Linked DNA regions of Homo sapiens. The protein of the gene in region 2 purifies or fractionates together with the protein of the main gene of each other region. This does not show direct contact. Each region holds a gene or a part of one and is shown on either strand. Other genes may lie near its edges. The genes, in order: ANKRD13C and SULT4A1.

Region 1 (3,816 bases), on a different chromosome or scaffold from region 2:
TATTTGAATAGTCTTATATAACCTCTTGCTGACAGATACAATGGGAATTATGGAAATAATTTACACTAATGGGGAAACTTCCCCCGAGATTTGATTTAACAATTCTACAGTGTTGCAGAAATGTAAGGTTATTTAATCTTACTCATATGTATAGAATACAAGAAAAAAATATTAAGTAAATGAGAAGTCTAAAGTAGGGAGACAAACAGGTTCAGGGAAATAGAGTCAAGTTTATCCCTTTTTGTAGTCTTCTTATCGAATAAAGCACTAGAAATATAATGGAATCATGTGAAAACATTGTTCCCTGTATAATAACAAGACAGCTAGCAATAAGAGTCCTTCCTGACACAGAATTCAAATGAGCTCAGCTTTCTTTCCTGAATTCTCCAAGGACACATTCTGACTCTAACCATCCATTATAATTCCTTATCTGGATTCAAGGAAGAGAGAAAAAAACTACTTGGAGACAATTCTGTAAGCTACTTCTTGCATTTCCATCACGTTATTTTGGAAATATTAAATACCGAACAATGCTTAAAGTTTAAAAATCTAGATTTGCACATACTGTTTTATCTTCCCGAAAAAGCCATCCTGTCTGGGCACGCGTGAAAGAAATTGATTTTGTTGATAAAGTTGCAGAGTAAATATCACTGCTCATTAAAATATCCACCTCTTCTTCTGTTTCCATCTCTGATTCCTGGGATGTGAGCAAAAGTTAAATATAAAAATCTAGGTTTTTCAAAAGTTCTTAGTACTACATATGAAAATATCAACAATTATAATGGTACCAATTTTTAAAGACAAAAAGGATAGTTTCTAAATAATGTGAAGTGTTACTTACTCTAAAAAGAATTAGATGTTTAAATTGTACATATTAATATCTTCTCTAAGTTAGCATTATGACTAATTATGAATCTATAAAAGCAGGACACATGAAATACGGTACTATTATCCTGTTATAGATATGTAATGGAAGCAGTACTAGATTACCCATTATAAAACTGTATAGTCCATAGAGCAATTTTTAAAAACAACTTTAAGAATTAACTTGACAGATCTGAGAAAAAAACCCAGATAAAGGATATTTTTCTTTCAATACAGATTAATCTTACTTTAGTTCTTCTTAATGCAAAGATCCACCACTGTCATTTGAGCCTTTCTTTCCCAATAAATTGTAAGTGGAAGAAAGGAAGAACTGAAGGGAGGGATAGAAGAAGGGAAGCAGCAGAGAGGGAAGGAAGGAAAAGAAGCAAGAAAGGATCTTTTCTGTATTCCTTATAAAATGGAAAGGAATCCATAAATATCAACCGTAATTTCTAAACTTAATGAGTAGTCATGCTTCAGGTTTTATCCTGTACATATTCCCTAGTGCTGGTATATAATAATTGAGCAATAATTATTTTTTATATGAGAAAAAAGGAAAGTTTTGTGCTTGCTTCAGGGACAGAAGACTAAATGATCAAGTACAGAAGAGTAAGTGAGCAGGTATAAGATGAGATTCTATTCCATAATAGGCCAAGAAAGATACCCTAACTAATATTTAAGACGTTATAAGGAAGAAAAAAGGCAAAACCTAGGGAGTTGTCTGGAGAATAATAACAGTCCCTAGGGTTTACAATAGTTAGAGCCTTCATTCTCCAAACCTCCTTATTTCTAGGTTCCCAAGAGGCCCATTTTCTATTCTTCACCATCTAACTTTAACCTACATAGAGTCCCTTTCTGATTTTTTTTTTTTTTTTTTTTTTTTGAGACAGAGTCCCGCTTTGTCGCCCAGGCTGGAGTGCAGTGGCACAATCTCAGCTCACTGCAAGCTCCTCCTCCCGGGTTCACACCATTCTCCTGCCTCAGCCTCCTGAGTAGCTGGGACTACAGGCACCCGCCCCCATGCCCGGCTAATTTTTTTATTTTTAGTAGAGACGGGGTTTCACCATGTTAGCCAGGATGGTCTCGATCTCCTGACCTCGTGATCCGCCCGCCTCGGCCTCCCAAAGCGCTGGGATTACAGGCATGAGCCACCGTGCCCAGCCCATATAGTCCCTTCCTGAATTTCCAAAAACAATACCATTGGCGACCGGGCTAGGTGGCTCATGCCTGTAATCCCAGCACTTTGGGAGGCCAAGGCAGGTGGATCACGAGGTCAGAAGACAGAAACCATTCTGGCTAACATGGTGAAACCCCGTCTCTACTAAAAAAAAAAAATTAGCCGGGCATGGTGGCACGCGCCTGTAGTCCCAGCTACTCGGGAGGCTAAGGCAGGAGAATCACTTGAACCCGGGAGGTGGAGGTTGCGGTGAGCTGAGATCAATCACGCCACTGCACTCCAGCCTGGAGACAGAGAGAGACTCCATCTCAAAAAAAAAAAAAAACAAAGAACAAACAAACAAAAAAATAGCAATGGCTTGGGCCTGGGACAGTACCATTTCCTCTACCCCTACAAGTAAAGAATGCAAAATCTTGGTGTTACTGCTAAAGCCATAATAGGTGAAAATGTATTCCTGGTAACCCAAATTAATTCTGAACACAATATTCTTTAAAAAAAAGTTAGGTTGCAGTAGTTAAACAGAACTGTTAAACACTATACTTCAAATATATTATGAATCAAGTAGAATTTTATATATTAGCTTGGAAACTGAACACTGTATAACCCATTGTCTATGAGCAAATTTGCCTTACATTTCAAACATCCTATTTTCAATAAACTTTTGGAACAGAATTCTTATATAAATCAGAGACTATCTCTTAACCACATCACTGAAAAAGATCTGCTGTTTTAATTAATTACATTGCTTCAACATTTAATGAAGTTATTACTTATACATACATACATATTAGGATAAACAACAAGTATTCTCTGCCCTAAGGAATACTGCTCAAAATTTATCTTTCCTGTATTGTAGGCATTATAAAATACATAATACATATATGTATGTATACATACATACCTTAATACTAGTACATACATACCTTAATACCTTAAAACTGGTACCCTTAATACCAGTTCTTTGGTAATACTATGACATCCACAAATACTTATGGACTACTAGCCTTAACTTCTAGCTTCTCTTTCAAGACCCTATTTCCAATTCACTTATTGCCTAGTTGGCTATCCTGTTGTCATTTCATAAGTAAGAGGTCAAATTATTTAATAAATATCTGAGAGGCTCACATATGAGTAAGCAAACTATAATCAGCTGCCTGTTTTTATGAATAAAATGATAATGGAATATACTCATTTATTTACATATTGTCTGTGGCTGCTTTTAACAACAGCAGAGTTGAGTAGTTGTGACAGAGGCCATATGGCCCACAAATATATTTTAATATCTAAAAATATTTATTATCTCTTCCTTCACAGAAAGAGTTTACCAACCTATAGCGTAGAATGTACTGATGCTGTATTAGATAACAGGGAATACAACAAAAAGAACCCCACGCCCTTGAGGAGCTTAGACCAATAGAAGGGAAAAAAGCCATGTCAGTAAATGTAACATTAGAAGCTTTATGGTTCCAGATTTAATAGGAACATAAGGACAACAAAAGTCATTTGGTGGGAGAGAAAGTAACACCAAGTGCATGCCCTACAGGTGTGAGGGTGCAAAAAGAAAAGCATTCCAGGAAGTGGAAAGAACATGAACAAAGGAATAAAGGCCCAAATAGCCTGGCACATCTGACAAACTGCCAAGAGTGCAGTATGAGGGTATCTAAAATAGTAAGGTAAGAAAAAGGCTAGAAAGGTGAGCAAAACTCAGGTGACAAAAGGAACCATGCCGTGCTAAGGAGATTAGATTTCACTCTTTAGGTAATGGGGAACTTTTT
Region 2 (3,816 bases):
AGGACACTGGAAAGAGCTGCCCCCACACTAACAGGGAGAGGTCAGATAAAATACAAGATCCTAGTTTCACTCAACCAAGATGGGCCCTTCCACAGAGTGGCAGGAGGCAAGCACCAGCTCACTTGAGACAGGGCCCTGGAGGAAGAGAAGCCAGCCCATGCAGGTGGCGAGAGGAATTCAGGTAAAATGTTTCCATGCTGGTAAAAGCCAAGGGTGAGCCCATGTGACAGCACAGAACCTCTGAAGCCAGAGAAGCCAGAGAATCTCACACTGAGCAGAGTTCACACCCAAACACAGGCTCTTCTCCAGACCTAGGCCAGGTGCTCAGGAGAAAGAGTTGGGGGCAGCATGCTTTGGAGAGAGCCTTCCTCAGTATCATGGCTGTAGGAAAAGAAAAACATCCTACTTGTACCCTTCTCCCTTACAGAAAAAAGGCTTTAAGTCACTGAGAGAGGGGCAGCAAACCGTGTCACCTCCCAGGGCACTGGTGAAGACCCAATGTGGCTGGAGATGGGCAAAAGGAAAAACCAAGACTCTGCCCTTGGGGGAGGGGCAGGAAACTGTCCCTGGGCCCTGACTACTAGAGATTCTCAGTGCTACAGAAGGGACATGAAACTCCTGCACAAGAGTTACCATCCAGGCAGTTTGGCTGCCACTCAGAGGAGGGCAGGATCAATGAAAAAGCCCTACCCAGACCCAGCAACATGGAGCCTGCAGAAGACTGCAGCTAGACAACACAACAGAGAACCCCAAACCCTCCCTACCAAGCTACTAAACCAAAGTAACAGATAACAGCAGAGTCGATCACTGGCACAGGGGCAAGAGTGTGCAGACAAAACTCCTCCAAGGTTCAGACCTACGAGGAAGACCAAAAGGTGGAGGTGGAGCAGGAACACTGAGAAAAAACCTCTGGAAACTCAGCCCCTCCACTGAACGCAAGCTAACACTACAATAATATGAAACCAGTGGTCACTCAAGGTAATCAGATCAACACCCGAACCCAAACCAGACCAACGAGGCGGGGTTAACTCAATTCCTTATACTAATGGCCTAGCAGTTGAAAAGCCGGCCTCATTTGCAAGCATAAATATGGCTGACCTTAGTCTCTACTATCTAATATGCTGTGTTGAGCAGTCAAAAGGTACTATTCACAAAAAAGGCACACGCGCACACACACAAACAAAACTGTCAAGAGACAAAGCAATCAACAGAATTAGACTCATGGAATTTTTAAGAAGTCTGATTAACATGTTAAAGGTTCCCAAGGAAAAGATGGACAACACACATGAATAGATGGGATTATTTCAGCAGAGAAATGGAAACTCTAAGTGGAAATGCTAGAGGGAAAAAAACATAACAGAAACATTGAATGCTTCTGACAGCTCATCAGCAGACTTGACACAGCAGAAGAAAGGAGCAGTTAGCCACAGATCGGTCCACAGAGATTACCCAAACTGGAACAAAAAGAGAAAAAGAAAGAAGCCAGGTGCAGCAGTATGCCTGCAGACCCAGCTACTCAGGAGGCTGAGGAAAGAGGACTGCTTAAGCCCAGGAATTCTAGGCCAGTCTGAGCAGCACAGTGAGATCCTGTCTCAAAAAAAAAAAAAAAAAAAAAGGAAAGAAAAAAGAGGGAAGAAAACAGAAAACAGAATACAACATCCAAGAGCTGGAGGACAACATCAAACAATCTAACATATATGTAATTGGAATCTCAAAGGAAGAAAGAATGAGGTAAAAGAAACATTTTCTAAGATAATGGCTGAGAATTTTTCCAAAATAATGAAAAGCATCAAACCACAGATCCAAGAGGCTTAGAGGAATCCCAAGTAGAATAATTAACACACACATACAAAAACCCTAGACATACCATATTCAAAGTGCTGAAAATCAAAGACAAAGAGAAAACATTGAAGGCAGCCAGAGGAAAACAGGCACATTACCCAGTGGAAAAAAGAACAAGCCAACATTTCAGCAGAAGCTAAACAAGCCAAGGCCTGGCATAGCAGCTCACGCCTGTAATCTCAGCACTTTGGGAGGCCGAGGTAAGAGGATCATTTGAGCCCATGAGTCCAAGACCAGCCTAGGCAACATGGTGAGACCCTATCTCTACAAAAATACAAAAAATTAGCCAGGTGTGGTGGCGCACACCTGCAGTCCTAGCTACTTGGGAGGCTGAGGCAGGAGGATTGCTTGAGCCCAGGAGGTGGAGGCTGCAGTGAGCCATGATTGCATCACTGCACTCCAGCCTGGGCAATAGAGTAAGATCCTGTCTCAAAAAAAAAAAAAAAAAAGGAAAGAAAGAAAAAAAAAGAAAGAAAGAAAAGAAACTATGGCCAAGCACTGTGACTCACACCTGTAATCCCAGTACTTTGGGAGGCCAAGGCAAAAGAAACTATGGCCAGCCATGGTGGCTCACACCCATAATCCCAGGACTTTGGGAGGCCAAGGCAGGAGGATTATTTAAGCCCAGGAGTTCAAACCAACTACAAGTTCAACCAGGGCCAACTACTCAGGAGGCTGTGCTCCCAGCAGCCCCATCTCCTTCTTCCTCCAGAAGTCATTCTGCAGGCTTTTGCCTCCCAGCCCGGTTGAGTGATGGGGAGAAACGTGACCCCCGCAGACCCAGGACACTTGCTTTGGCAGCCCCTTCCCCAGGTCAAGCCTCCTGAGTATGTGTAACAGCCGGAAGACAAAGGGGAAGGGATGAGGGAGCAAGAGGAGAAAGATGGGGAAAGAGGAACTTCTCAGTTCTTCTGGTACAAAACCACACGTTCCATTCTTCAGGCCTCTGCATTCCCTCATAGGACGCAGGTAACTCACCACACTGCTGTGGAACACTTTGTTACCCTGTGTGGTAAAGCTCAAAGGGCTCCGCATGCTCCCTCATCTCAGAACAAACTGGTAACCCAGGAAGCGCTGGCAGGTGCTAGCTCCCACCCCCACGCCTCTCTTACCCCCTCCTGTGGGTGGTTTCTCTCCAGGATCTACACTCGGTGCTGCCACTACCCCAGCCCTTTGTCCTCCCTAGGCCCTCATTTTCACATCTATAAAAAGGAAATAATCACAAGAGCACAGGGCCGTCCTGAGAATCAAAGTGGGTGGAGGGCAAAACAGCATCTGTAATGGGTAATCCACCCAACCTGTCTCCTCCTCCATGCAGTCTCCCGAGATCCTCCTCTTCAGAACCCTCATTACCAGGCCATTTACCTGACCCTGAGAACAGCCACCCTGGCTTGTCAGTTAACTTTTCAGTGTTAGGATTCTGGCTTCCCCCATGTCACTGCAAGTGCCACAAGGTCACCATCACCTCATGCCCAGCCCTTCTGAAACCTGTCTCTCCCAGGCACAGTGACATACACACCAAGAAAACTAGGACATCCATCTAGCCTGGGACCTGCACACCATGAGTCTCCCCTCAGCTTCAGCTCCCCTCAGCTTCAACCCCTGAGTTGTCTGAAAATGTAAGACTTAAATGAATCAATCTGGTCAAATCCTCTCATTTTTAATGAGCAAACTGAGGTTCAAAGAAACCAGGTGGCTCACCCACGCCCAGGCCCAGAAGCTTCCGTCTGCATCAGTGAGAATGCGCACACACTTCAGGACTGGCCGGAACCAGGGGCAAAATAAACTCAGGGCAGTGGGTGCTCTGGCTGAGCCAGGGACCGTATTTCAAAGCCCAAGCTCCATGACTTTGGGGCTGTGCCCCCTCGGGGACGAGCACCCAATTCAAATCAACCTGTTGACAAAACCAGTGGCAGTGATTGCATCAAACCAACACACAGGGACAAAATATTTTCACAGACACAATCGGATTTA

Evidence for each region.
Region 1: the proteins of SULT4A1 (region 2) and ANKRD13C purify together in Homo sapiens (affinity purification with mass spectrometry, with the first as the bait; one large-scale study listed by BioGRID). This does not show direct contact.

The regions. Positions count from the first base shown.
Region 1 is NC_000001.11:70,295,565-70,299,380, forward strand, and holds part of ANKRD13C (ankyrin repeat domain-containing protein 13C), read right to left. Parts: intron 698-3,816; coding exon 566-697; intron 1-565. UniProt on the Homo sapiens protein: Acts as a molecular chaperone for G protein-coupled receptors, regulating their biogenesis and exit from the ER.
Region 2 is NC_000022.11:43,855,777-43,859,592, forward strand, and holds part of SULT4A1 (sulfotransferase 4A1), read right to left. Parts: intron 1-3,816. UniProt on the Homo sapiens protein: Atypical sulfotransferase family member with very low affinity for 3'-phospho-5'-adenylyl sulfate (PAPS) and very low catalytic activity towards L-triiodothyronine, thyroxine, estrone, p-nitrophenol, 2-naphthylamine, and 2-beta-naphthol.